Homo sapiens: one gene and its partners. The protein of the gene in region 2 purifies or fractionates together with the protein of the main gene of each other region. This does not show direct contact. Each region holds a gene or a part of one and is shown on either strand. Other genes may lie near its edges. The genes, in order: CAPG, DDX19B, FGG, AKR1B10, NDRG2, SERPINA3 and TF.

Region 1 (4,101 bases), on a different chromosome or scaffold from region 2:
CTTTATTTATTTATTTTAAATTTATAATTGACAGATAATAATTGCACATACTTAGCAGGAGCAGTGTGATGTTTCATTGTACATATGCAATGTATGTGTATATATTGTATAATGATCAAATCAAGGTAATTAGCATATCCATCACTTTAAACATTTATCATTTCTTTGTGATGATAACATTCAAATCCTCTCTTCTGGCTATCTTGAAATATACACTGCATTATTATTAGCTATCATCACCCTGATTTTCAGATATTAAACCAACCTTGCATTCCTGGGATAAACCTCATTTGGTCATCATGGTTTATTTTTTATATATTATTTGATTTCATTTGCTAAAATTTTGTTAATTTTTTTTTTTTTTTTTTTTTTTTGAGATGGAGTCTCACTCTGTCACCCAGGCTGGAGTACAATGGCATGGGCTTAGCTCACTGCAGCCTCTGCCTCTTGGGTTCAAGCAATTTTCCCGCCTCAGCCTCCTGAGTAGCTGGGACTATAGGCACGTGCCACCACACCCAGCAAATTTTTGTATTTTTAGTAGAGATAGGGTTTCACCATGTTGGCCAGGCTGGTCTCGAACTCCTGACCTCATGATCCACCCACCTTGGCCTCCCAAAGTGCTGGGATTACAGGCGTGAGCCACCGTGTCCAGCCAAATTGTGTTAATTTTTGTATGTGTATGTTCATGAGAGATACTGATCTGTAATTTTCTTTTTGCATAATATATTTATCTGGTTTTGTTATCAGGAGAATGTTGGCAGCATAGGATGAATTGAGAAGTGTTCTGTCATCTCTTTTTTTGAAGATTTTGTGTACAATTGGTATTATGTCCTTTTTAAATTTTTGGTAGAAATTACCAGGGAAGCCATCTGGGCTTGGGTTTTTTGGCGGGGGAACGAGTTTTTTACTACAAATTTATTTTCTTTAATAGATATGGCCACTGTTCAGATAATCTGTGTCTTCTTGAATGAGCTTTCATAATTTGTGTCTTTGAAGGAATTTGCCCATTTTATATAAGTGGTTGAATATATTGGCATAAAGTTTTTATAATATTCCCTTTATCCTTTTAATATCTGTAAAATCTATGGTGATCTCACATCTCTCATTTCTGTATTGATATTTGTGTTTTCTCTTTCTGTTAATCAGTTTGTCTAAAGATTTATCAATTTTATCGGTTTAAAAAAACAACTTGCCAGGCACGGTGGCTCACGCCTGTAATACCAACACTTTGGGAGGCTGAGGCGCGTGAATCACCTGAGGTCAGGAGTTTAAGACCAGCCTGGCCAACATGGTGAAACCCTGTCTCTACTAAAAATACAAAAATTAGCCAGGCGTGGTGGTGTGGGCCTGTAATCCCAGCTACTTGGGAAGCTGAGGCACAAGAATCACTTGAACTCATGAGGCAGAGGTCGCAGTGAGCTGAGATCACGCCACTGCACTCCAGCCTGAGTGACAGAGTGAGACTCTGTCTCCAAAAAAAAAAAAGCCAACTTGAGGCCAGGCATGGTGGCTCATGCCTATACTCTCGGCACTTTGGGAGGCTGAGATGGGCAAATCACTTGAGGTTAGGAGTTCAACACCAGCCTGGGCAACATGGCAAAACCCCATCTCTACTAAAAATACAAAAATTAGCCAGGTGTGATGGTGTTGCCTGTAATCCCAGCTGCTTGGGTGGCTGAGACCGGAGGATTACTTGAACCCGGGAGGCGGAGGTTGCAGTGAGGCGAGATCGCACCACTGCACTCCAGCCTGGGCAACAGAGTGAGACTCAGTCTCAAAAAAAAAATTCATTGCTCTTCTCTCTTGTTTCTGTTTTCTGTTAATTTCTGCTTTTATTTTAATTTCTGTGAGATCTCAGCAGACGGAAGACCCTGGCCCAGGGGTCAGAGACCTTATTTCCATGAACCACTCACTAGCTGTGTGGCCTTGGACTCATTTCTGAGACTCATTTTCTTTGTCTGCATAATGGAACTAGGGCTCCTAGAGGTGGAGTAGTTGATGAATATGAAAGTACTTGGCCACTGGAAAGGGCCTCTCCAGCCCCACGTGAGAGGTCCTTTTTGTGGCATTTGTAATAATAATGGCTTCTTCTTTCTTTCCAGATCTGAAGACAGCATGTACACAGCCATTCCCCAGAGGTAAGCTGCATGCCCCATCTCCTTTCACAACTTCCCCTTCTTTACCTCCAAGGGCTGCCCCTCCCCACTGCTCTCCTCATCCCCAGACTGCAGTCGCCAGGCCTGCCCAGGGCTGTGCTTGGGCAAGTGGGTCCAGGCTGCTGTCAACCCTCTCTCTTCTCGCAGTGGCTCTCCATTCCCAGGCTCAGTGCAGGATCCAGGCCTGCATGTGTGGCGGGTGGAGAAGCTGAAGCCGGTGCCTGTGGCGCAAGAGAACCAGGGCGTCTTCTTCTCGGGGGACTCCTACCTAGTGCTGCACAATGGCCCAGAAGAGGTTTCCCATCTGCACCTGTGGATAGGTAAGGGGATCTGGATGGGGGAAGGTTGGGCCCAGGAAGGGGAGGGAGGGGGCTGGTATGGATCACAAGGGCCTTGCCCTGCCCTCTCCCACTTGTCCCAGGCCAGCAGTCATCCCGGGATGAGCAGGGGGCCTGTGCCGTGCTGGCTGTGCACCTCAACACGCTGCTGGGAGAGCGGCCTGTGCAGCACCGCGAGGTGCAGGGCAATGAGTCTGACCTCTTCATGAGCTACTTCCCACGGGGCCTCAAGTACCAGGTCAGAGCCCACCTCTAGGCACCCCCACCCTGCAGCTTCCCTCAGAGCCAGCCCTGCTTCTGGCTGGTTCTCACCCTGCAGAAGACCCGGGTGCCTTTGGAGCCGGGTCCCCACCTTTCTGCCCGTCTTCCAGTGGGATGGGGTGCAGAGGGCTCTGGGTCTCCTGTCAGTCCACTCAGATGGGCCGTCTGGGCTGCAGGAAGGTGGTGTGGAGTCAGCATTTCACAAGACCTCCACAGGAGCCCCAGCTGCCATCAAGAAACTCTACCAGGTGAAGGGGAAGAAGAACATCCGTGCCACCGAGCGGGCACTGAACTGGGACAGCTTCAACACTGGGGACTGCTTCATCCTGGACCTGGGCCAGGTGGGTAGGCTGGCCAGACTGAGCACTCCGTATTGGCACCATCCTTTATAAGGACGGAGGGGCAGGAGGCCAGGAAAGAGGGAGAGAAGCTGAGAAGCCGTAAACCCATTCCAAGTGAGATCACTCTGACCATTGGAGAATGTCCCTATATTTGTAAGGACTGATGCCAGCCTCCTTCTGCCATCTAGACATTGCCTCTGATGCTCTGGAGCTTTTTCCCTCCTCTTGGAAGCCTCTGAGTTCACTGCCTGCCAGACCATTCATTAATTCAGTCATTTATCTCTTCGTTCAGTGAATCTATGATGCTCTCTCTGAGCCAGCACAGGGACCATAAAAGCTCGCTCTGGGGAGGCAGCCAAGATGGGCCAGTCACTTGCCATAACCTGAGGCAGGATGTGATGAGGGCTTTAAGGGGGACAGCTGCCATGTGCTGGGGGGGTCTTGGGGCAGGGAGGGGCCCTCTAGCCTGAGCCGAAGCCAGTTGTCCCAGGAAGGTGACATTGGACTAGACCTATAGGAGGGGAGATGCCACTCCAGGCAAAGGGAGAAGGTGAGCTGAGCCACCAAGGTGGGGAAGGGTGCAGACATGCACACACCAGGGGTCTAGTGAGACTGGGACCCGGGCTGGGGGACAGGAGCAGGGGGAGGGAAATTCCTAAGCAAGGTGGAAGGTGAGCCCTAGGTCATGAGGAGATTGGCTGGCTGAGGAGTATGGGCTGCGTCTTGTGGCGCTGAAGATTTGGGGCAGGGAGATCAATCCAGGAGCTCTTGGTGAGGACTACACGTGCTGAGACAAGGAAGGGGACAGGTGAACAGACCTCGCCATTACCAGAAAAGGAGAGGTGACAGGGGCTCTGCCTGGCAGGGCGGTGGGTAGAAGTGTGAGATGCTGCGCTCAAGGAGCCATTCAGCCATTCACCCATCCAGTCCTTCACTCAGTCAGTCAATATTTATTTTGCGCCTAAATCCATGCCGGGCTCTGTTTTAGCAGTGGGCCCACAGTGG
Region 2 (4,101 bases):
TGTCGCCCAGGCTGAAGTGCAGTGGCGTGATCTTGGCTCACTGCAAGCTCTGCCTCCCAGGTTCACGCCATTCTCCTGCCTCAGCCTCCGGAGTAGCTGGGACTACAGGCGCCTGCCACCATGCCCGACTAACTTTTTATATTTTTAGTAGAGACGGGGTTTCACCGTGTTAGCCAGGATGGTCTCGATCTCCTGACCTCGTGATCTGCCCGCCTCGGCCTCCCGAAGTGCTGGGATTACAGGCATAAGCCACCGCGCCCAGCCTCCCATTTCTATTCATGGAAATGGACAAGAAGTTTCTGGTCCCTTTCTGCTTTGGTGTTGGGAAAGAGGAAAAAGAAAGGGAACACATTAAAGAGATTAGAAAAAAGCAACTTAACAAAAAGGAAACCATTCAACTGGAGAAAGCCGACTGAAAAACAAACAAAAAAAAAAAGAAATCATTATAAAGCAGTAAAAATCCTTCACTAATTCTGAAGGATAAAGAATACACTAATGGGGGAGGGCAGTGGGGGACAGCATTAGGAAAAAGAGCTAATACATGTGGGGCTTAATACTTAGGTGATGGGTTGATAGGTGCAGCAAACCACCATGGTACATGTTTACCTATGTAACAAACATGCACATCCTGCACATGCACCCTAGAACTTTAAAAAAAAAAAAACAGCTGGGCACAGTGGCTCACACCTGTAATCCCAGCACTTTGGGAGGCTGAAATGGGAGGCTCCCTTGAGGCCAGGAGTTTGAGACAAGCCTGGGCAACATAGTGAGACTCCACCTCTATAAAGATTAAAAATAAAAATATTGACAGGGCATGGTGGCTTGTGACTTGAATCCCAGCACTTTTGGAGGCCGAGGAGGGAGGATCCTTGGAACTCATGGAGTTCGAGACAAGCCTGGGTAACATAGTGAGACCCCATCTCCTAAAAAATAAATAAATAGGCTGGGCATGGTGGCTCATTCCTGTAATCCCAGAGCTTTGGGAGGCTGAGGCAGGCTGATCACCTGAGGTCAGGAGTTCGAGACCAGCCTGACCAACATGGTAAAACCCTGTCTCTACTAAAAAAATATAAAAAAAATTAGCCAGGTGTGGTGGCGCAGGAGGCTGAGGCAGGAGAATCACTTGAACCTGGGAGTTGGAGGTTGCAGTGAGCCAAGATCACACCATTGCACTCCAGCTTGGGCAACAGAGTGAGACTCTGTCTTAAAAATAAATAAATAAATAGACCGGGTGTGGTGGCTCACGCCTGTAATCCCAGCACTTTGGGAGGCCGAGGCAGGTGGATCACCTGAGGTCAGGAGTTCGAGACCAGACTGGCCAACATGGTGAAAACCTGTCTCTACTAAAAATATAAAAACTAGCTGGGCATGGTGGTGGGTGCCTGTAATCCCAGCTACTCAGGAGGCTGAGGCAGGAGAATTACTTGAACCCAGGAGACAGAGGTTGCAGTGAGCCGACATGGTGCCACTGCACTCCAGCCTTGGCAGCAGAGTGAGACTCCGTCTCAAAATAAATAAATAAATAAAAATAAATACATAAATAAATAATAAATTTAAATAAATTTTAAAATAAAATAAATAAATATATTAGCTGGGCATGGTGGTATGTGCCCATAGTCCCAGCTACCAGGGAGGCTGAGGTGGGAGGATTGCTTGAGCCCAGGAGTTCCAGGTTACAGTGTGCTATGATCTTGCCACTGCATTCCAGCCTGGGTGACAGAATGAGACCCCATCTCTATTAAAAAAAATACACACATATATACACACACACACATATATACATACACACACACACACACACATATATATACATATGGCCAGATGTGATGGCTCACGCCTGTAATCCTAGTACTTTGGGAGGCCGAGATGGATGGATTGCCTGAGCTCAGGAGTTCGAGAGCACTGTGGGCAACATGATGAAACCCCATCTCTACTGAAATATGAAAAATTGGCTGGGCATGGTGGCACGTGCTTGTAATCCCACCTACTTAGGAAGCTGAGGCATGAGAATCGCTTAAACCCGGGAGGCAGAGGTTGCAGTGAGCCGAGATGGTGCCACTGCACTCCAGCCTGGGAGACAGTGCGAGACTCTTGTCTCCAAAAAATAAAAAATAAAAAAAGACATATTATTTCATAGACAATATTAATCTTAAAGATTAATGATGCAGCTGCTTTGGAAAACATCCTGGCACTTTCTCAAAAGTTAAATACAGAATTACTATATAATCCAGCAGTCCCACTTCTAGATATATACCCGAGTATTGAAACTATATGTCCACACAAAAACTTGTACATTAATCAAAAGCAGTATTATTCATAGTAGCTAAAAAGTAGAAATAATCCAAATGTCCAGAAATTGATAAGTGGATAAATAAAATGTGGTATATCCACACAATGGAATATTATTTGGCAACAATAAGGAATAAAGTACTGATACATGCTACAACTAATGAACCTTAGTTCATTATACTAAATAAAAGGAGCCAGTCACAAAGGATCACATACCGTATGTTCCCATTTATATGAAATGTTTAAAAGAGGCAAATCTAAAGAGACAGAAAGTAGATTAGTGATTGCCTAGAGCTGGGGAGTTTGTAGGGAAACAGGGAGTAACTGCTAATGTGTACAGAGTTTCCTTTTGGGGTGATGAAAATGTTCTAAAATTGACTGTGATATAAGCTACACACTTCTGAATACACCAACCATCAGTGAACTGTACACTTTAATCTCACCATAATGTCATAATAATAGGGTCTCAAGATTCTGTTTCATAAAATGCAGGAATTTGTTGTTGTAAGGTTAATAAAATGGCTAGTTTGGGCCTGCTAAAAACAGCAAGAGTTAATCATTTCATACCTGAGTTTTTATTATCACTGGATTCATTATTATGAGTTTCTGTTCTATCCAAAAGATAACTCTATGATGCAAACTCAAGCCAAAAAGAAAATGTCAAAGCTACCTACTCCTAACAAACCCTCTTAGGCACATTAATAGGTTAAAACAATGACAATTTAACCTGACCTGAATGGCCGGGTGCAGTGGCTCATGCCTATAATCCCAGCACTTTGGAAGGCCAAGGCAGGTGATAGCTTGAGCTCAGGAACTTGAGACTGCCCTGAGCAACATGGTGAAACCCTATGTCTACAAAACATACAAAAATTTGCCAGGTGTGGTGGTGCACACCTGTAGTCCCAGCTACTTGCAAGGCTGAGGTGGGAGGACTGCATGAGCCTGGGAGGTCAAGGGTGCAGTGAGCCATGTACACACCACTGCATTCCAGCCTGGGTGACAAAGTAAGACTCTATTTCAAAAACAACAACAACAACAAACAACAACAACAACAACAACAAAACTGACCTAACAAGAAGTTAGTTAAAATAGTCAAAACTCTCAGAACTAAAAAATAAAAAAAACAGGCCGGGTGCTGTGGGTCATGCCTGTAATCCCAGCACTTTGGGAGGCCGAGGCGGGCGGATCACGAGGTCAGAAGATCGAGACCATCCTGGCTAACACGGTGAAACCTCATCTCTACCAAAAAAATACAAAAAAATTAGCTGGGCATGGTGGTGGGCGCCTGTAGTCCCAGCTACTCGGGAAGCTGAGGCAGGAGAATGGCGTGAACCCAGGAGGTGGAGCTTGCAGTGAGCCGAGATTGCGCCACTGCACTCCAGCCTGGGCGACAGAGTGAGACTCTGTCTCAAAAAATAAATACATAAAAATTTAAAAAATAATAATTAAAAAAACAAAAAACCTCTCAGAACTACTTGAAACACATATTTATCTCTACGTTGACTAATGATGTGTTTTTTTTCTAAGTGTATATTGTGCCTTGAGATATTGGCTAATAAAAATATGAAGCCAGCACACACAAGCACAGGAAAGCATTATTTCATTTTTATCTCAGCCTTTATTACTTTTTTATTTGCTTTACAATGTACATAATATATTTAATAAAACAGTAAAGTATGCAATTTCTAAATAGATATTTACATATTGAGAGTGAATGATCAAAAGTTTCTTTGCAACAAATAACAAACTACACAGTTCATTTACTCAGTTAACAATGCCTGCCAGGTTAGGCATGAGAAATGCTCAAATGGA
Region 3 (3,594 bases), on a different chromosome or scaffold from region 2:
CTCCTGTAGTCACAGCTACTCGGGAGGCTGAGGAAGGAGGATCACTTGAGCCCAGGAGTTCAAGGCTGGCTGCAGTGAGCTACTGTTGTGCCACTGCATTACAGACTGGGTGACAGAGTGAGACCCTATATCCAAAAAAAAAAAGGAAAGGCAAGAAGAAAGAAAGAAGTGTGAAAAGAAAGAGAGTGCAAAGCCAAAGCTCAGGACTTCGGAACAACCAGACCCACCTCATAAAATTAGCCAATTACTTCCCACAGTCAGCCTTTTGCTAAGTTATGTAGATTTAGCTATTCCTTAGAAAGTTGGCGAATGAACCTGAACTCAGGCTGCTAAAAAGTCAATATCCCTGAATCAGAAGGAAGAGATGGTTCCATTCAGCTCACCTCATGACTAGTGAGAGATAGGGCAAATAGCTCCCTAAAGCTCTCTGCTCTGAGTTGCAGTCCTTTCAGAGTGACCAGGTCCCACCACAGGTGTTTGGAGCTAAAAGGTTCTGCTGGGAGACTCCCCAAGCAGCTTTCCTGTCTCCAGCTGCACTTTGGATACTATGCATCTTGGTTGTGTGGCTGTGACTCCTGCTTAGTGATTATGTTCTTGTATAGAGTATTGTCAGTTTGGGTTGCTGTATTTTCCTGTATTTGTCCTGTATCTCCTAGAGGGCAAAAGCCATAATTGCTATTTCCTTTGTAACTCCCAAAGAGTTAGGCATAACATTTAGCATAAAATGAGGACTCAATTACTACTGATGGTTGCCCAATTGTAATTGGTAAATTGGCAAAAAGTGGTGGTTTTTAATGGTCAATAAAGGTACCATGTATCTAGTCTTAGGAAACAAAAGGTTTATTGAAATGCATGTAGATAAATTATCATCAGCATAAAACTGTTATGGAGTTTTCAACATGGGGTCTTTTGCTCTTAAAATGAAGTGAAGCTTTGCAAGTCCATTGTCCAATAGGAAAAATATTATATCTCTCTGTTCAGATAAAGTCCTTTAAAAAAGTAAATCTCTTTTGAAACGGTCTTTTAAACGTCTCCAGCCTGTGAATATATAACAAAACAAAAACCATATTAAAAAGACATAATTTTCTCCATTTAAAAAGAAGAATTAAATAGGAATGATTTAGGGGTAATAAACAAGGAAAATACCTGGGAATTTGAAACTCTAAAATGTTCTCCTATTTTATTAAGTACATACTAAAATATTTGATATAATGAAAATAATTTACGAAGACAAAATAAATGACAAGTGGTCATAAAAATGCAAATAAAGTCAATCATTTTATTATTATATATTTAGGAACAAAGTTGAAATGTTATCTCCTCAAATAAACAATTTTTAAATAACTCTGATATCAGTAATTTGGAAATACAGTCCTAAATGAGTTTTAATTTCCATTGAAGGCTAAATGTCCTTAATAGAAGACTTGAAATCAATAAATATAGTAAGAGAAAAAAGGAAGAAACTTTCAGAGAATTTCTGAAACTTTGTGGGTCAATAGAAGTTAGCAGTTAATTTTCTACAAATCATCCTCAGGGTAAAGTGAGTCATATTCTGTTTCCGCAGGGTGCTCTGGTCTGACCTGTTTGGCTCCCCCCAGGTGGTGTTGCTGTCCTTCTCCAATTGTGAGTCTGTTGAATGGGATTATCTTCATAGTGGTTTTCTTCATGGAATACCACCGGGTTTTCCAAGTGGCCCAAATAATGCCATTATCATAACCATTAGGAGTAGATGCTTTTGAGTAAGTGCCACCTAAAACAAGTCGTAGATGTACATATCATTATTCTGGAATCTTTTTACCTCTGCAAGTCTATGAAGAGCTGTCTATTACGAAGTGCATTGCCAGTTACATAAAATTTATAGTATTATCTGCTAACTGAAAATATCTCCAAAGATTCCTAAAATATCAATTTATAAAATAAACATATTATTAAACAACATCTGTGCTGTGACTCATAGTCACATCCACACTTTAAATTTATTCACTACTAGTAGGGCTAGAAACCCAAAGTTCCCTAATTGGCCTCTGTCCCTAAGCTTATCCATCCCGGACTCAGCTGCTGTGGACCATCTTTCTTCAGGCAGGTTAGAAGAGAAGGAGCCACAAAATTCCTGATGAGGTCAACTCAGGTTATTTGAAAGCACAATTTTGTTGGTTGATTGAGGAGCTTTAGGAAATGGTTCTGGCATGTTATTTTATGTCTCCATTTTAAAGTGCAGCCTCTGTTGATTTGCCTTCTCCTTGTCCTAGGGAAGCAGATCTCATGTAATTCTGTAAAAGGCTTGTCAGAGCACAACACTGGCATGAACTACAGCTCTGGCATGGCGCCCCGGGTCACACAGATCAAGCATTTTCCCTTAGAGTTTCTTCTCATTATGTGGTTTGTGAGTGCAAAGATAAGTTATGTTTCTCCAATTTAAAAATATTGTGAAAATCAAACTGTTACTTTAAATAAACTGTGCAAAGTTTCCTAGTTGGTGATTGGCTAGGACATCAGGAGGTAAGGTTGCTCATCTTGGTAGATGAGGAGACTATGGTTTGCTACAAGCCCGGAGTGGTTTGGAACACTGGTTTCACTCATCTACCCAGCAGATATGGTAGGGAAGTCCTACTGATGCTAAACAGGTCTGGTCTGACTGTTTGGCTTTCCCAGGGTGGTGTTGCTGTCCTTCTCCAACGGAGAGTCTGTTGAGTGGGATTATCTTCATAGTGGTTTTATTCATGGAATACCACTGGGATTTCCAAATAATGCCATTATTGTAACATGGATCCTTTAGCATCGGTAAGGCTTCCCCACACATAACTGCTGGGTAGGTGAGTGAAACCAGTGTTCCAAACCATTCCAAGCTTATAGCAAACTATAGCCTCCTCATCCAACCCCCATCCTAAAATAAGTGTCTACTGTCCTCAGACTGGTCTCTTCTCTCAAGCTTTCACAAACCCCTGCCCTTACCAGTGCTTGCCTTCTCTTTATTCTGTTCCTCCAAACACCTGTTCACTGCGTGTATCTGACACAAAGCTCATGGGAAGCCAGGTTAATGTGTCAACAAGCATCCATGTAGTAATGTTAATCCATCCAGATCATTTATGTTGTATGTCTAAAGGAGATCCCACAACCCACAGTGCCAGCTATGATGGTGATAGTTTCACATATAATGCCAAACTACTGGATATTTTGCAGCAGGTGGATTTCTTTAGAAGGGCTAATTTTAGGCATGAACTTGGTATTATCCACTTCCAGTTTCAAAGAACTTAGTTGAAATAAAGAACATGATAAAATCCCTACTATCTTTATAAATTATTCTTCATTTCTTCATATCTATTTATTATTTTTTATGAAAATAGTATACACTATACATTAACTTGGAATCTAAGAAAGGAAAACATACCTTGGTAATAAACTCCATTGAGATGGCCAGCGTGACACTTGTTCATCCACCAACCAGATCCATCCTGTTCAGCACAGTTGCCTTCAAACTTATCATTGTCATTGTCCCAGGTACTGAACTGCATGCCATTATGGGATGTGAAAAACTTGTCACTAGGATCATCGCCAAAATCAAAGCCATCAAAGGCATCTCCAGCATCCCCACCA
Region 4 (4,725 bases), on a different chromosome or scaffold from region 2:
ATTTAGGTTGACAGTCACTAAGGATTTACTATTTCAACAATACTAGCACTGCATGTCATCCAGTATACACTGGGAAAATAAAGTGCCGCAAGTGCATATCCAGGAGACTTTGTGGCCACCAGATTATGAGGAATGCATGTATTTAATTATTTATTTTTGGGACAGAGTCTGTCTCTGTCGCCCAGGCTATAGTGCAGTGGCACCATCTTGGCTCACTGCATTCTCCACCTCCCAGGTTCAAGGGATTCTCAGGCCTCCCAAGCAGCGGGGACTATAGGTACGTGCCATCATGCCTCGCTAATTTTTGGATTTTTAGCAGAGACAGGGTTTCACCATGTTGGCCAGGCTGGTCTCAAACCCCTAAGCTCAAGTGATCTACCTGCCTCGGCCTCCCAAAGTGCTGGGATTACAGGTGTGAGACACCATGCCCGGCCCATGCATTATTATTAATGTTGAAGTAGATAATTTAACAAACATCAATGAAGTATAAGATTTTTCACTCATAGTTGCAAAATATCATGCCAATTGCCTTCTATGAGCTGTCATAAGCCACAGCCTAGAGATTCAATTCCATTTCAAGATTCAACCAAAGCCAACTCATCAACAAGAACATGTAAAAGACAGAAAAACCCACTACCGGCAGGCTGAAACAGATGCTGTGACGTGGCCCTGGCCTGTCATGGCGTGTCACAGCATGGCACAGGCCTATATCATGTTCCCTAGATTGCTGACTACCAACTAGTTACAGCTGACTCCAATCAGGTCGGGATTTGACCATCTCTGCACTGAACCTGCAATTGCAACTTTTAAAATTGAAACGCTGCTTCTCACCTCTCCTCCCTAGACTCTATTTCACAGAGGAAACCATCACAGGGAAAGCAAGCCCTTGTTTTTTCTTCCTTCTTTGCTTTGCTTTCTTTCTCTCCTTCCTTCTTTCTTTCCTTCCTCCCTCCCTCCCTCCCTCCCTCCTTCCTTCCTTCCTTCCTTCCTTCCTTCTTTCCTTTCTTCCTTCCTGCCTTCCCTTCTTTCTTTCTTTTTTTTGAGACAGGGTCTCACTGTCTGTCGCCCAGGCTGGAGTGCAGTGGCATGATCTAGGCTCATTGCAACCTCCGCCTCCCAGGTTCAAGTGATTCTCCTTTCTCAGCCTCCCAAGTAGCTGGGATTGCAGATACGTGCCCCCACGCCCGGCTAATTTTTGTATTTTTAGTAGAGGCAGGGTTTCACTATGTTGGCCAGACTTCTTTCCCTCCCTCCTCCAACTCTTCTTTTCTTCCTTGCTGTCTCCCTCCCTACCTTCCAACTTTTGGCTGTGTTGAATTTGTTGACTCATCCTGAACAAGCAGAAACTCCAATGATACTGTCACCTAAGAGAGAACTTTGCACAAGGTTGCCATGTTTAATAATTCATTCACAGAATCCTCAATCTCACAAAAGCCTGGAATGGATTTCCTGTTTGGTTATGGCAGGGAAGCTACTGTGGCCAGGCTCCAACTCCTCCCACTGTAGATAGCAGCAGCCTTCTTAAGCAGCCTGTGGCCGGGCACAGTAGCTCACACCTGTAATCCCAGCACTTTGGAAGGCCGAGGTGGGCGGATCACCTGAGCTCAGGAGTTTGAGACCAGCCTGTCTCTACTAACAATATAAAAATTAGCTGGGAGTCACGGTGGGCGCCTGTAATCCCAGCTACTCGGGAGGCTGAGGCAGGAGAATTGCTTGAACCCAGGAGACAGAGGTTGTAGTGAGCTGAGATCGCACCACTGCACTCTAGCCTTGGCAACAGTGCAAGACTGTCTCAAAAACAGCAACAGAGAGCAGGACGTGAGACTTCTACCTGCTCACTCAGAATCATTTCTGCACCAACCATGGCCACGTTTGTGGAGCTCAGTACCAAAGCCAAGATGCCCATTGTGGGCCTGGGCACTTGGAAGGTAAATATGCAAATCTTTGCACACCCTTCTTCTCTGGAGGGGCGTTTGGGTGTTTTCTCTTTCTGCATTCAGCCAGGAAAGCCTGGAGGTCGGGCAGGGGTTGGAGAGGTAAGATTCAGCCCTGGAGCCAGGACTTAGGTTGCTTTCTTTTCTCAGAGCTGATTCAGGCTGCAAAGCTCCAAGGCTGGCTTTCCCAGCAGTGATGAGAGCTTCTCTAGCAAGTATCAAATTTCAAGCAGCTGTTGGACTTAAAACTGTTTTCCAGGGCAGTTTCTCTCTCTGGTTCTAGGACACTTAATTGGGCTCAACGTTTCCCCCAAGTCTTGGCTGTGGGTTTGTTGTGGGCTGGGTGGTTGAGGAGAGGATGCAGAGCCCGAAGTCCTTGGCACCCCTTTGCAGATCACGGTGTGAGACTTGGGCTAGCAGCATCCCTATGACCTGGAAACTTGCTAGAAATGCAAACTGGCCAGGTGTGGTGGCTTATCCCTGTAATCCCAGCACTTTGGGAAATCCAGACGGGAGGGTTGCTTGAGCCCAGGAGTTGGAGACCAGCCTGGGCAACATGGCAAGAATCCATTTCTACAAAAAATAAATAAATTTTCTGGGCATGGTGGCACGCACCTGTAGTCCCAGCCACTTGGGAGGCTGAGGTGGAGATTGAGTGTTGAGCCTGAGGGGTCAAGGCTGCAATGAGCAGTGATTGTGCCACTGCACTCCAGTCTGGGCAACAGAGTGAGATCCAAGAAAGCAAGAAAGAGAGAAAGAGAGAGAGAGAAAGAAAGAGAGACAGAGAGAAACAAAATGCAGAGTCTCAGGCTCCAACCCAGGCTACCTAATGGGCATCTGCACTTTAACAAGATCCCTACGTGGTTCCTGTACACATTGAAATCTGCAACATGCTGGGGCTGCAGAGAGCCTGGGCTGGGAGTCGTGAGCACCACCCGGCTGTGTTAACGACAGCTGGCAAAATGTGGTAAGGCACATCCAGGACTCAGTGAGGCAGGTTCCCGAGCCTCTGTTAGGCTAAGTTTCAAGTTGTTCCATCACCACCTCCCTCTGCCTTCTTTGCCATTTCCATCCATGATAGCACTACCCTAACTAGTGATGAGAAGCAGTCTTTGGAGTTCCTCTTCTCTCCTGTCCCTCATGGCTAATGTCCCTGCTGAGACTTCTGCCTCTGGCTCTCTTTCCTTCTGTGCACCCTGATTTTTCTTCTCTTCTGTCCCAAGCTAGAGGTTAGGACCCTCTGCTGCAGCACTGGGTCATCCTCAGGATACATTCTTGGTGTATCTGGAGGAACAGATCACTTCCAGCTTGATTCATGCAGAGCGTCTCTTGCTTGAATAGCAAGATTTGCCCAAAATCAGACCTTCAATCCTGTATAAACAGAATAAATAATCACTTCCAGATCTCCAGGGAATCTACTCACCCTGGGTGAGTTTACCAGACAGTTTCATAATTTTGGAATTGAATGAAAGAATTATGAAGGGAGCTGTCTTCAACACGTGGGGATGATAGACTAAAGGATTATGAACTTAGCAGTGGAGGTGAAGAAGGGTGTAGCGTAGCGGTTGGGGGCACAGGGCTGCTTCTGGGTGCCTGGCAGCAGCTCGTTTCTTGTCCAGGTGGTAGGGTAGCTGTGCATCTCTGTTTTGTGTACTGTTCAATGTTTGTTATCTCACAATTGAAGAGGTTTAAAAGACCATTTTGTGAGAGATCAAGTTTTAAGTGCTTTTTTGCCCCCATCATTGGCTTGGCTAGGTTAGAACAAAATGTGATAATTCTATTTCCCTTCTTTTCTTTTTTTCTTTCTTTTCTTTTCTTTCCTTCCCTTCTTTCTCTCCCTCTCTGTCATTCCCCTCCCTCTCTCTTTCTTTTTACAGGAGTGGAAAACAAACTCTATTCCTATAAGGTTTTCTATTTCTCTTTTTTTTCTGAAACGATCATTGTATAATGATGGCCTCTACTGAACCTTACTGTGTGTCAGGTAATGTGCAAAAAGCTTAATATTCATTGCAGCATCTCATCACCACAAAGGCCTCATGAGGCTGGTGCTATTTTTTTTTCCATTTTGCATACAAGGTTTACAGAGATTGAATCACCTGCTTAGACCCACACACCCAGTAAGTGATCGAATCCAGATTGATGGTGTAATGACCATTATCCAGATCCTTATCACCATTTGGGGAAATTGTCTGAAAATCCCTTGGGGTTATTTAGAGTCAAGCTTTCATCTGGGTCTTCAGAAAGTTGTAGTGGAGCGGTCTGCACCCCCACACACCTGAAGACATTTCAGGACTAACCTGGATGAAAAGGGAACTGACTTTTAGCTAGGATAGGACATAAGGACATAATCATAAAATAATTCACTTTCCTTCTTTTCTTTTGAAAAGTTTTGTAAAGTGTGTATCCTCCCAGAGATCCCCTGGCAAAGGAGACCCCAGTGAGGCCTTGGTTTGGAGAAACTGGGCCTTGTGGGGCAGCCTGTTGAAGGTGGCCTGGGGATAAGAGAATATGATGGTTGCTGAGAGTGGTGTAATTCCAGCTACTCGGGAGGTGGGAGGGTTGCTTGAACCTGGGAGTGTGAGGCCAGCCTGGGCAACACGGCAGGGCCCCATCTCTTAAAAAAAACACATATGTGATGAGCTTTTCTTTTGCCTTTCAGTCTCCTCTTGGCAAAGTGAAAGAAGCAGTGAAGGTGGCCATTGATGCAGGATATCGGCACATTGACTGTGCCTATGTCTATCAGAATGAACATGAAGTGGGGGAAGCCATCCAAGAGAAGATCCAAGAGAAG
Region 5 (4,771 bases), on a different chromosome or scaffold from region 2:
GTGGGTCACCTCCTCCCTCTTGGCCTCTCCTTCTTTCCAGTAGACCCTGCCAAGTGGGGATGAAAGGGGCATTGATGTTCCTTGGATGGGAGGGGTATTGCGGGTGGTGAGGGTGGTGGTGGGAGGGTGGTTCCCAGGCAGGAGGGGGCAGGGAAACTTGGGGGTCTTGGGGGGGCAGTCGGTGCTGGTGTTGCAGTTGGCAGCTCAAGTTCCATTGGCCATTGTTCCTGACTGGCCTGGCGCCCAGCCCCCGAAATGGCAACTCAGGAACCAGTCTGAAGGGGGTTGGGGTGGATATGATCCTGGGATTGGGGGAGCTACAAGGGGGGCAGGTGGGGAGAAATTCAGTCAGGTTTCCTTTTGCCTAAACAACTTCGAATTCCCTTAAGCCACATTTTTAATCAACTAACTCATTCCAGGGAGCCTTCCTCCGAGGGGCACAAGGAGAGCTCATTCCAGGGTGTGTGTGTGTGTGTGCGTGTGCGTGTGTGTGTAAAGTCTACAGTGGCAAACCCACTCGGGCACCGAGAGGGACGCGGCAGACCCTGAGACCATCCCCCGGGCATTGCGATTCAGCGGGCCTGAGCTGGTCTCCTATTCTGGGCCGGACTGGGAGGGGTTAGCGGCGAAGCCACAGGGTCTCTTGGGTCCCAGCCCAGGACACTGCGTCCTCCCCAAGCCCCTACTCCACCCCCGCAGGGTTAACTCCGCCCCTGCGCCTGTTTACCCAGGAGTCAGAGCCTCTGGGGGTCCCCGGCCCCTCCCCCGCGCCCCTTGAGGCATTGACCCCAGAGTCCCTGTTGGCCATCCTCTCCCCACCCCCCGCCTGCCCGCGATCGCCCTCTATTTATAGCGGCCCCCCGCATTCCCCGCCCCCACCTCCCCGCCTTGTTGTCCAACTTCTCCCGGAGCAGCCGGAGAGCAGGCGTCGGGACGCAGCAAAGAGAGGAGAGGTACCAGGACTCTGGGCACGAGGGAGTCGGAACTCCTGCGCCCTCGACGTTCCCCCGTGCCCCCTTTCGGCGCCAGCACACCTGCCCCTGCCAGCCGGCGAGACCCCCGCCTCCTCAGCGGCGGTCCCGCCCACCTCCTCCTTTCTTAATCTAGTTCTCTGTGTTCGGGCGGGGGGAGTCGAACTCGTGGGGTGTCAGTATCCCGGGTTCGTCTCCCCACTACCGGTTCCCACCACTGAGTCTGGGGGCGAAGGAAGGAGCCAGAGTGCAATTGCAGATCCAGGTCGTGGATGGGGCGGTGCTGAGGGCAGCCGAGGGATCCCTCTCAGGGCTGAGGGATCCCCGCACTCCCCACACCGCCCCAATGCGGGGAGGGGGTGGTGGAATGTTTTGGTGAGCCGAGCAGAGCCTGGAAGCGTCCAGCCGCCCGCCCCTCGCCCCCCGGCCCCAGCACAACCCTTTCCTGAGCGGCAGTCTGGGCGGGGTGAAAGGGGGGGCGTGTTTACTGGGGGTCTGGGGCGGGTCTGCGGGGAGCCTAGCGCCCGTGGGCGGGCTGGGGCGGGCCGGGGGCGGGTCTGCGGGAAGCCCGAGCCGGGGCGGGCCCGAGTCAAAGGCAAGTGAAGGTGGAAGCGGCCGCGGCGGCAGCAGGTAGGGGGAGGGGCAGGCGAGGGGCCGTAGGGCCTGGAAGGCGCCAGCCGGGCCGGCGGGCGGTGTGATTGATCCGCGTCCCCTGGAGCTGGAGGCTCGGGGGAAAGGGCCAGCACGGAGCGGGCGCTCGGTTGCTGCGCACAAAGGCTGAGGCTCCAAGAGCTGCAGGGCGTGTTTGGGGTGCGCGCGAGGTTGTGTGCAAGGTCCGGGGCGCTTGGCACCGGCCACGCAAGGGTGTCAGTCTCCACGCGGACGGGCTGCGTAGGGACTCGTAGGGACGGGTTCCGGGTGCTGGGCCCGGCCGGTCTCCTCTGTCCTACCCATCCCTTCCCGATGGCGCTTGCCTTCGCGGGCCGTCGGGGGAGAACGGGAGAAGATTGTGGGACCGCTCTCCTCTCCCTTTCTCCACTCGTGGGACCTACACGGAGACTGAGTAGAGGAGAGAAGCGACGGCACCAATCTTTGTGTTTGTTTTTAAATTGTGGAGGGAAACAGCCATGCTCTGCTACCCTCCTCTTACTGGAGAGCTGTCAAAAATTTTGGGGATCCCCTATTCCCCCGCGTTTAGTCCCCCTGCAGATAGAAAATTGAGGCCAAATGTAGTAACTAACTGGGGCAAGGTCACACTGGGAGTGGCAGAGCCGGGATTCGAATCCGGAGGTTCTGACAGGGCCACCCTCTTACCTCCACATCAGCACTTCCTTCTCTCCTCCGCGCAGCCTGAACTGATGCCCTTGTAGCCTATATTGATTCCGGCTCGAGCCTAGAGAGGACGTGTTCTCTGGACTTAGGGGTAGACAGACACTGGGGAGGGTTAGTGACCCGAGGAGGTTGATGACCCTGGGAGTCTGGGTCTTGGCTGAGGCTTTCCGTCCCTGAAAGACCCCAGGTCTGTCTCCCATGTCATTCACCTCGTTGCTGTGTTTTCTCAGACCCCAGAGTCAGAAGGAGTGAGAACCCTGACCCCTAATCCCACTGCATCCAGCCAATAGGAGCCCAGTAAGTGACCCCACCCCGCAGGCTGCAGGCTCCTTCCTGTGCAGGTCTGTCCAGGTGCTCTGCTCCTCACCCACTAATGTTGAACTTGCGGAGTTTATTCAGAGTTGGGAGGAAGGGTCTTGGGAGGAAGGGAGGCATTGGGTTGGTTGGACAGATGTCCCTTTTATGTTGTTTTCCCCACCTCCCCCATTGGTCATGTTGCTTTGGTCATTTTTAGCCCCCTTTGAGCTGCCGACTTTGGGGCTTTAATTGAAGGTCATGGTCAATTGTGAACTCTCACAGTCCCGTCTTTTGGTACCCTGTCCTTTAGAATACTCAGTCACTGAGCTACAAGTTTCACTCCCTACCTGAGAGTGTGGGGTGGCCCCTAAATATAGCCCGAGAAATCTGAGCTACACTTCTGCCCCACCCTGGTATTTTGGTCCAGGGCAGAGGAGGGAGGGGTCTGGAGGTGTGGTGTTGAGGGTGGCAGTGGGGATGGTGAGTATCAAGAGAAGGGCTGTCCTGATTCCTCTTCCAAAGCTTCCACCGATCAGCCTGGAAACGGAGCTGGGGGCAGGAAAGGCCCTCTGTGTGTTCTAGAGTAGTCTTCAACCCCTGGGTCCCTCTGTTCCCTGCATCTTCCTGTGCTGAGAGAGGAAGCCTGGTGTTTGAGGCGATGTGGGGATGTAGAGACAACTTCCCAGTCTCATTTCCTCATCCTGCCAGGCCACCATGGCGGAGCTGCAGGAGGTGCAGATCACAGAGGAGAAGCCACTGTTGCCAGGACAGACGCCTGAGGCGGCCAAGGTTATTAGAGACCGTTTGACTCCCATGCCCAAATTCCAGACCTCTAAGCATCCCCCTTGCCTTCTAACTTCCCAAGCGTACTGATCTTATTCTAACTCACACCACTGCTTCACCACTACCCTAGTCTCTCTCCCCATACACTATAATTGGGAGTCAGGCCCTTGTCTCGTCACTACACTAACCTTCATCCTTTCCGTGTCTCTCTTTGTCAATCTCTTTCTGTCTTTGGTCATTTGTTGGTCTGTCTTTACTTGCCTCTCTTTGTCTGTTTGTCTCTCCATCTGGGACGCCACATGGTCATGTGTTTCTGTGTGAATCCGTGTGTGTCTCTCCAGGAGGCTGAGTTAGCTGCCCGAATCCTCCTGGACCAGGGACAGGTAACAGTGTGGGGGCAGTCCCAAGGTGGGAGGAGGGGCTGTCCTCTTCCCCAGTAGAAGGATGGCCTCTGCTTGGCCCTCTCTTCTCTCTTTGCTTTCTTTCCTTCTATTCTAGTCCTTTCCCTTCCCTATCTCTCCCCTCTCCTTCCTTCCCCTCCTCTTCTCTCTCTAATCTTCATTATTCTTTCTTATCCTCAAACTCATCTTCCGGTATCATGTTTTCCTCAATTCTTGCTGATCCTGTTTTTAATTCTTTGTTCCCTTTTCCCTCTTGCCCACCCACTCCCAGCTCCCTGACCTTGGTGTTGCTCCTTTTCTGGCCTCGTCTCCTCTGAGCCTAGCTCTTGGTGCCCTGTTTTCCTGCAGACTCACTCTGTGGAGACACCATACGGCTCTGTCACTTTCACTGTCTATGGCACCCCCAAACCCAAACGCCCAGCGATCCTTACCTACCACGATGTGGGACTCAACTGTAAGGACCTTCATTCATCTCCCACTCCTGTCTGGGAAGAGGCTGTGGGGGAAGGGTAGAAATGAAACCCAGAGGGAGGGGAGGGGTCAGTGTGGGAAGGAGAAGTTCTCTCCTGGTCTGACTGTGGCATGAAAGGAAGGGTGAGTTCTGACTGGGGGACACGAGTCCCTGTCTGATTCTATTGTTGAGGTGATGTGGGTTCTCTTTAGATAAATCTTGCTTCCAGCCACTGTTTCAGTTCGAGGACATGCAGGAAATCATTCAGAACTTTGTGCGGGTTCATGTGGATGCCCCTGGAATGGAAGAGGGAGCCCCTGTGTTCCCTTTGGGGTAAGAGTTAGGTCGTTACTGCTTCACCAGACTGTGAGGAACAGGACAGGTGCGGGAAAGGTTCGACTGGGGAGGAGGAAAGGGAGGGCAGTGGTTATTCTGGGAGAGAATGAGTAGGACATCCTGAGGTGGGGGGTGTGAGGGCAGGTTGGTATCTTCCTTAACATGCCTCTCTTTTCCAGATATCAGTACCCATCTCTGGA
Region 6 (3,500 bases), on a different chromosome or scaffold from region 2:
TCATGCCTCTTTCCCCCACTTTCCCTAAACCTTCTTTCTCTCTTGCACTCCTTATTCCCTGGTTCCTATTGATTTCTCATTTAGCACAAGGAACTAGGTCTTTCTTTTGTGGCCCTTTTCCCAATCCAAGCCTGCTGGGCTCTCCCTCACCCCCAATAACTTTTACTCTTGCCAAGCTACTTCTCTAAACCAAAGCAGGGTCCCTCCTATGAGGGACTCTGGGCACTTCCACTGCTGCGGAAGCAGGGTCGAGCAGGGCGACCCTTGCACTCACACCTTCTCCAACTGCTTGCTCCACCTTCAGCCAAATGGGAGATGCCCTTTGACCCCCAAGATACTCATCAGTCAAGGTTCTACTTGAGCAAGAAAAAGTGGGTAATGGTGCCCATGATGAGTTTGCATCACCTGACTATACCTTACTTCCGGGACGAGGAGCTGTCCTGCACCGTGGTGGAGCTGAAGTACACAGGCAATGCCAGCGCACTCTTCATCCTCCCTGATCAAGACAAGATGGAGGAAGTGGAAGCCATGCTGCTCCCAGAGACCCTGAAGCGGTGGAGAGACTCTCTGGAGTTCAGGTGATTCTTCCTGGCCCCCAAAGACCCCACATCTCTCCACGTCAAGGTCTCACCAATGTCCAGGGACAAGGGCATGGTGGTGGGAGAACTCATACAGGGACAGGTGGAATTTACACTTACTTTGCCCTATGCTGCCTACATGGCTTTGGGCTTGATTTTTCTTTTTCTTCTTTAAGACAATGACATCAGACAGGACAAGGGGCTGAGGCTTCCTCTGACTCCAGCATGTTCTAAGTCATGAGAAATCTTCTGCACAGTCCCAAACACTCATGCATGGTTTCTCCTGGTCTCAATCTCTTGAAGGGAGAGAGAAACAGAAGGAATTGTGATCAGTTGAGGGCTGCAGTGAGATGGACTCTGAGAATCAGTTCTGCACTGGTGAACCACTGTATTTATTCATTCTCTCAGCATTTGCTGCATGATTAATTGAGCACCTACTATGTGTCAGACACTAATTTGCACCCTGAGAGTAAATCAGCAAATAAAACACAAGATTCCCTGCCCTCCTGGAGCTTAATTTGTAATTGGAGAGGGGACAGGCAATAAATAAATATAACAAATAAGTTACGTGATATATTAGAAGGTGAGAAATTGAGTAAGGGGATAGAAATTGAGTAGAGGAGGATGAAAGGATCAGGAAAACTGGAACTCGTGTTAGTTTGTGATTTTAGATAGAGTAGCCATTAGGTGATGTTTGAGCATCCATATAACAGAGGGGAGGGGTGGAGTCATGTTGGTATATTAGGGAAAAGCATTCCTGGCAGAGGGAACAGTCAGTGCAAGGCCTCTGAGGTGGAAGTGAGCTTGATGTGGTCAAAGAAGAGTCAGGCCAGAGCAGCTGGGCTTCCACTTCCTCCATCTTGTCTTGATCAGGGAGGATGAAGAGTGCGCTGGCATTGCCTGTGTACTTCAGCTCCACCACGGTGCAGGAGCAGAGAGAGTGAGGAGAGAGTTGAGAGAGGTCAGGAGTCCCCAAAGGGGTGGAGCAGCTTAGGTAGGGCCACGTAGACCCCTAGAAAACCTTGCCCTTCCTCCTGTGTGTGAAATGGAGAGCCATCAGGAGGTTTGGAGGAGTGCTGCGATCCGAGTGTTGTTTTAAAAGACTAATCCTGGCTGCTGAGAGGAGAATAACTGTAGAGCAGGTATGGAGTCAGTGACACCCGCAGGAACCAGGCACAGACATGAGGTGGGAGCCCACTGTGGCTGGGATCCAGGAGGGAGCCATGCATGTGAGAAGTCATTGAGTTCTGGATAAATCTGAGGGTAGAGGAACTTGCTGGGACACACGGAATTGAGCTGACCGATTTCATGGGGACACAGTGAGGAGGAGCAGTAGTTCCGGGCCCAGACCCTGCAGTGGGCCCAGGGAGTGCATGTGGGCAGCTGTGTGGGGTAGAGAGGAAGGAGCACCAGCCTTGGGTTCAGACCGTGGTGGCTGGTGTGACCTGGAGCAGGTCGCTGCTCTTCTCTGGAGCTCAGCTACCTCCTGAAGAGAAAGGAATGTCCTTTCCCCACCACCCCTGTTTTCACTGGGTGATTGTGAGAATCCGGTGAGGTATTGTATGTTGAAGCCATAATAAACCACTAAGGGCAAGGGAGCTGCTTCAACACTAACCTGAGGCTGCAACCCCTGCCCCAACCACTGTCCAGAAGGCCGGACACCTCTCGGGATTGCCTGACCCTCAGCCCCTCCTCACTCTAGATCCCAGGAGACCCCAGAACGTGGGGGTCCTACCCAACCCATCCGTTTACTCCCAGACTCCTTCCTCCTTTAGCACCTAATAGCCACCAGGGAGCAGGGGCTCAGCAGATAATTTTGAGTGGAAAGAATTCTCCAAACACTTTTGATTTACAAAATGCTGAGGAAACATGTGTCCACACACTCCTGGCCCACAGAGAATGCTCAATAGATACTTGTTGAATGAAGGATGGAATGAACGGACAAACACATGAATGAATGAATAAAAATAGAAATAGGACACCTTCCTCCTTCAGGGGACTCAGAGTTTAATGGAAGACACAGCCTCCTGTATAATTGTAAGACCAGGCAGACAGTGACAGGCATCTTAAGAGGGCTATAAACTAAGGGAGGGGGAGTTTGCAGGTGGCAGGTGTGACCTGGGCCTCTAGGAGCTTGCTACCTGCTCTATGCCAGCCCACACCTGGCTTGAGGGACAGTGCCCACTGGTGAGGCAAGATGGGAACCTCCAATTGATTGTTTCAGGATCCCCAAAGCTCTTCTAACACAATCAGACTCTTCAGAGGCCCCCAGGCCCTTTTTGACCTGCCTCTGGCTCCTGGCCCACCTCATCCCTCACTACCCTCCTCCCTGAAACACTGAGATCACCCACCGCCCCGTGGAGCAACTCCTCCTGCTCCCACCTTCTTCCAGGTTCTTCCACCTGCCTCCTGCCCACCTCTTCACCTAGCTAGCTCCTTTCCTGCCTTTGGGACTCAGCCTCAACACCACCTCCTACAGGAAGCCCTCCTGGTGCCCCCGTGAAGCAGGCTGCCATGCAGCCACTGCAGCTGGCCCAGCCCAGGCTCTCAACACACTCAGGGGTCCCTGCTGGTGTGAAGGTGCTTCAACTGCATTGCAAGCTGCAGGGAAAGGGCAGGGCCAGGCTCGAGCAGGGCCACAACTCCAGGCTTGGTGTGCTGCCTGGAGACTTTCACACTTGCAGATCTGAATGAATAATTAATGAATAAGAAGAGTAAAGACAGGGGTTAAGAAATTGAGGAACAGATTATTTATTTTCCAATCAGAAGGGGGTGACTGTAGAGGAAACCAGGGAAGACCATGCTGCGAGGTGGGAGGCAGGTAGGTACTGATCAGCAGAGGTTCAGATACTTTTTTTTTCTCGTTTTCTAGAGAGATAGGTGAGCTCTACCTGCCAAAGTTTTCCATCTCGAGGGACTATA
Region 7 (4,101 bases), on a different chromosome or scaffold from region 2:
TTCATTCCTAGCCCATGACCTTTGCTCAGAGCCCTCTTTATTTTGAGACTTCCTTTGAGGTCTTCCTCAGGTGCTTCTGTGGAGATTTTTTTTCTGGGGGAAGATGGGAACCTTGAAAACATTCGTCTTCACTCTGACTCAGTACTCAATGCTCTTCCTTCCTGTCCTGGGTCCATAAAACTGCATGACCCTTTTGCTGAGGGATTGGGCACTTTCTCTGGGTTTAGCTTCTTGGTGATACTATGTACTGAATGATCAAAAGCTTGATTATTATTTCCATTTTTGCTCATCTCTGGTATAATTGTCTACTCCAACACATGGGCAGCTCATCTCTCTTTCTCTCTCAGCTCCATTTTACAAGTGAGAAATATGAGGCACAGAAAGGTTAAGTCACTTCCCTGGGCCACATAGCCAGTAAGTCATGGAGCTGGGATTTCAGTGCAGACATTCCGGGTTTATTTCTTATCATTACACTGTTACTTCAGGTTATGTTCCTTTTTGACTTTGTGCTTCTGTAAGCCCTCATCTTTACATCAACAGGTCCCTTGAAATATTATAGCTGCCTTCTTACTAGATCTATAATTTATTTTCTTTTTATGTAAATCCTTAAAGTGAGCCCAACCATCTTTTATTTAGACACTTAAACACATAGTTTTACTCCTTTTTTGTTTTAAATGTCTTTAATCAAAATGATTTTTCCAGAAGCCCTTGCCAGTTCTCTATGAAGATTTCTTATTGATCAAATTACAAAGCAGGCCAGGTATAGTGGCTCATACCTTGTACTTCCAGCACTTTGGGAAGCCTAGGCAAGTGGATCACCTGAGGTTAGGAGTTCGAGACCAGCCTAGCCAATATGGTGAAACACTGTCTCTACCAAAACAAACAAACAAAAATTAGCTGGGCTTGGTGGCACATGCCTGTAATACCAGCCACTTGGGAAGCTGAGGCAGGAGAATCGCTTGAACCTGGGATGCAGAGGTTGCAGTGAGCCGAGATTGTACCACTGCACTCTAGCCTAGGTGACAGAGCAAGACTCTCAAAAAAAAAAAAAAAAATTACAAAGCAAAAGCTATAGTTCCATGAACTTTGTTGTGTTACAATCAAGTAATAAGACAATAGTATTTCTAAATGAAATAAAATATGTTGTAAGACAAACTATATCAGCAGTCTCGCTCTTGTCCCTCAGGCTTGAGTGCAATGGCTCAATCTCGGCTCACTGTAACCTCTGCCTCCAGGGTTCAAACGATTCTCCTGCCTCTGCCTCCCAAGTAGCTGGGATTAAGGCGCCTGCCATCACACCCGGCTAATTTTTGTATTTTTTTTAGTAGAGATGGGGTTTCACCATGTTGGCCAGGCTGGTCTCAAACTCCTGACCTCAGGTGATCCACCCGCCTCGGCCTCCCAAAGTGCTGGGATTACAGGCGTGAGCCACCGCACCCAGCCAATTTTAACCATTTTCAAGTGTACATTTTAGTGGCATTAAGTACATGCATTCACGTTGTTTTATAGCCATCACATCTATCCATCTCCAGAAACTGAAACTCTTTACACATTAAACAATTACCTCCTATTTCTCCCCCACTCCAGCCCCTGGTAGTCATTATGCTACTTTCTGTTTCTATAAATTTGACTATTCTAGATACTTCATAAAAGTGGAACTTTGGGAGGCCGAGACGGGCGGATCACGAGGTCAGGAGATCGAGACCATACTGGCTAACACGGTGAAACCCCGTCTCTACTAAAAATACAAAAATTAGCCGGGCATGGTGGCGCGCGCCTGTAGTCCCAGCTACACGGGAGGCTGAGGCAGGAGAATGGCGTGAACCCGGGAGGCGGAGCTTGCAGTGAGTCGAGATCGCGCCACTGCACTCCAGCCTGGGCGACAGAGCGAAACTCCGTCTCAAAAAAAAAAAAAAAAAAAAAGTGGAATCTTACAATATTTGTCCTTTTGTATCTAGCTTGCTTCACTTATGTTTTCAAGGTTCATCTCAGTGTAGCATATATCAGAGTTTCATTTATTTTTAAGGCTAAAAATATTTCATCATTTGTGTTTACCACATTTTATTTATCTATTCACTCATCAATGGATATTTGGGTTGTAAAACATATTTTTAATATACCACAATACAAAACAAAATTAACAGACATCATGGGCCTTTCTGTTCCACAACAACTAGACCTTATATATGAAACACACTTCGTGGTTTTGTTTAATCTGCAAACACCTTCCCTTCCCCAGTCCTCACATTGTTGAATAAAAATGAAGCAAACAGGGTGCAGCACACCAACATGGCACATGTGTACATATGTAACAAACCTGCATGTTGTGCACTTGTACCCTAGAACTTAAAGTATAATAAAATATATATATATTTTTTAAAAAATGAAGCAAACAAACGAGAGCTTTGCCCATTGCAGTGGGGTTGGGAGAGTGGTCAGGAACCTGGTCTTTCTTTGCCAAGACACCAAGAAATCACTGGTGCCTCGGGGGCTCAGGGAGCCAAAGAGCTAAGGCCTAAAACACAGCGTCCAGCCCTAGAGCTGCAGGGTTCCCAGGGGAACCTGCGCCAGCTGGGAGGGACAGGATTATAATCAAGCAAGCTCTCACAAGTCAAAATAACCAAACCCAGAAGAGGGAAAGCTACAGAGAGAAGGCTGGAGGGAAGCCAAGGGGAAGCCAGCAGAAAGACACGGAAAACCCCAGCGCGGGGATTGAGGGAAGCCAGGCTGCATCTGGATGTTTCTTCCACCTTTTCCCTTCGGCTAACCTACTGCTTGCTTTGTGCTGAGAACTGTAGAATTTCCCACACTTGACACATCTGTCCAAACCTCTGCACTAAGAGACCTGACCAGACTCTGGCATGGCTCCTAGCAGAACAAATCTGTGTCCCTAGGATGGCCCGGTTCCCCTTAAAGTGCTTGCCTGAGAAAACTCAGTGCTGCCAGGAAAATGTACCTGTTTCTTCTACTCAACACACAACTGATGATAGGCCCCTGACCTCCCTTTCCAAGAGAATTTACTAAAAAGGACTTAAAACTGTGAATATGTATCTCTTGAAACTCACAAGCATCTCTCTCAAGGACTGAGAGCCATTCCTTTGCAACACAATCATCAGGATGGATAGAGTGTCTGTCTCGCAGTCTCTGCGGGAGAATAGAGTCCTAATCGAGAGAACTGCCAGCTATCAGACACAGCTGGCCTCCTCACATTTACACTGACCAGCCCTTTCTACCTTTTTACTTCTCTGACTCTACAGAGCCCTGCGTTCTCCCCTCCCTCATTCTCCCTTTAAAATGCTCACATCACCACTGCACAAATCAGAATGGAGCCTAGCTCTTTCCCCCACTGTCAGCAGTTACTGAATGAAACCTATTGTCACTGCCTAAACTAATATCTGGCTGTGCTTATCTTTGACAGCTCCCATCACCCTGGCCTCCCACTAGCAACTTAAATAAGCCCACTCTGCTCTGCCTCAGGCCCTTTGCATATGCTCTTGTTTGCTGCCTGGTGTATTTTACACTGGAGCCCACCCAGGCTCAGTCCTTCATTACATCTCTCTCAGAGAGATGGTCTCTGACCACCCAGGACAAAGCAGGTTTTTCTGTGAGTCCCTGTCAGAACACTCTCCTTTTTCCCTCCATTGTACATCCCCACATTTTGGAATTAGTAGTTTACTTATTCGTGTGTTTTTCTGCTCTCCTGACTAGCCCATGAGCTCCCTGAGGGTAAGGACCAATGTGTTTAATTCACCACTGCAGCCCCATTGCCCAGCACAGGATCTGACATGTACAGATGGGCAGGGGCAACGTTGAAAGAATGAAGAGCATTTTTGTAGACCTAAGAACAAAAAGATCAGCTGTCACCTGCAATCAGGACACTTTACTCTTCCCCCTGCATGCATCACTCATCTTCCCAGTTGTGTATCAAAAGCTGCCAAAGAAGGTTATATAATAATTTTGATAGTGGGCATTCTTATTTATTTATTTATTTTGAGATGGAGCCTCACTCTGTCACCTAGGCTGGAGTGCAGTGGCAGGATCTTGGCTCACTGCAACCTCTGCCTCCCCGGTTCAAGTGATTCTCCTGCCTCAGCCTCCCAA

The links.
Region 1: the proteins of DDX19B (region 2) and CAPG purify together in Homo sapiens (affinity purification with mass spectrometry; 2 studies listed by BioGRID and IntAct, with this or other methods). This does not show direct contact.
Region 3: the proteins of DDX19B (region 2) and FGG purify together in Homo sapiens (affinity purification with mass spectrometry; 2 studies listed by BioGRID and IntAct, with this or other methods). This does not show direct contact.
Region 4: the proteins of DDX19B (region 2) and AKR1B10 purify together in Homo sapiens (affinity purification with mass spectrometry; 2 studies listed by BioGRID and IntAct, with this or other methods). This does not show direct contact.
Region 5: the proteins of DDX19B (region 2) and NDRG2 purify together in Homo sapiens (affinity purification with mass spectrometry; 2 studies listed by BioGRID and IntAct, with this or other methods). This does not show direct contact.
Region 6: the proteins of DDX19B (region 2) and SERPINA3 purify together in Homo sapiens (affinity purification with mass spectrometry; 2 studies listed by BioGRID and IntAct, with this or other methods). This does not show direct contact.
Region 7: the proteins of DDX19B (region 2) and TF purify together in Homo sapiens (affinity purification with mass spectrometry; 2 studies listed by BioGRID and IntAct, with this or other methods). This does not show direct contact.

Annotation. Positions count from the first base shown.
Region 1 is NC_000002.12:85,400,160-85,404,260, reverse strand, and holds part of CAPG (macrophage-capping protein), read left to right. Parts: intron 1-2,102; 5' UTR 2,103-2,115; coding exon 2,116-2,138; intron 2,139-2,303; coding exon 2,304-2,476; intron 2,477-2,577; coding exon 2,578-2,732; intron 2,733-2,931; coding exon 2,932-3,096; intron 3,097-4,101. UniProt on the Homo sapiens protein: Calcium-sensitive protein which reversibly blocks the barbed ends of actin filaments but does not sever preformed actin filaments. May play an important role in macrophage function.
Region 2 is NC_000016.10:70,305,377-70,309,477, reverse strand, and holds part of DDX19B (ATP-dependent RNA helicase DDX19B), read right to left. Parts: intron 1-4,101. UniProt on the Homo sapiens protein: ATP-dependent RNA helicase involved in mRNA export from the nucleus.
Region 3 is NC_000004.12:154,603,317-154,606,910, forward strand, and holds the end of FGG (fibrinogen gamma chain isoform gamma-B precursor), read right to left. Parts: coding exon 3,389-3,594; intron 1,751-3,388; coding exon 1,518-1,750; 3' UTR 1,039-1,517; coding exon of another isoform or gene 1,024-1,038; 3' UTR 855-1,023; downstream 1-854. UniProt on the Homo sapiens protein: Together with fibrinogen alpha (FGA) and fibrinogen beta (FGB), polymerizes to form an insoluble fibrin matrix. Has a major function in hemostasis as one of the primary components of blood clots.
Region 4 is NC_000007.14:134,526,050-134,530,774, forward strand, and holds the start of AKR1B10 (aldo-keto reductase family 1 member B10), read left to right. Parts: upstream 1-1,517; 5' UTR 1,518-1,862; coding exon 1,863-1,928; intron 1,929-4,593; coding exon 4,594-4,725. UniProt on the Homo sapiens protein: Catalyzes the NADPH-dependent reduction of a wide variety of carbonyl-containing compounds to their corresponding alcohols. Displays strong enzymatic activity toward all-trans-retinal, 9-cis-retinal, and 13-cis-retinal.
Region 5 is NC_000014.9:21,021,859-21,026,629, reverse strand, and holds the start of NDRG2 (protein NDRG2), read left to right. Parts: upstream 1-1,568; 5' UTR 1,569-2,600; exon of another isoform or gene 2,601-2,654; intron 2,655-3,122; exon of another isoform or gene 3,123-3,308; coding exon of another isoform or gene 3,309-3,314; coding exon 3,315-3,389; intron 3,390-3,724; coding exon 3,725-3,766; intron 3,767-4,132; coding exon 4,133-4,238; intron 4,239-4,447; coding exon 4,448-4,568; intron 4,569-4,750; coding exon 4,751-4,771. UniProt on the Homo sapiens protein: Contributes to the regulation of the Wnt signaling pathway. Down-regulates CTNNB1-mediated transcriptional activation of target genes, such as CCND1, and may thereby act as tumor suppressor. May be involved in dendritic cell and neuron differentiation.
Region 6 is NC_000014.9:94,618,891-94,622,390, forward strand, and holds part of SERPINA3 (alpha-1-antichymotrypsin precursor), read left to right. Parts: intron 1-304; coding exon 305-578; intron 579-3,450; coding exon 3,451-3,500. UniProt on the Homo sapiens protein: Although its physiological function is unclear, it can inhibit neutrophil cathepsin G and mast cell chymase, both of which can convert angiotensin-1 to the active angiotensin-2.
Region 7 is NC_000003.12:133,749,052-133,753,152, reverse strand, and holds part of TF (serotransferrin isoform 1 precursor), read right to left. Parts: intron 1-4,101. UniProt on the Homo sapiens protein: Transferrins are iron binding transport proteins which can bind two Fe(3+) ions in association with the binding of an anion, usually bicarbonate.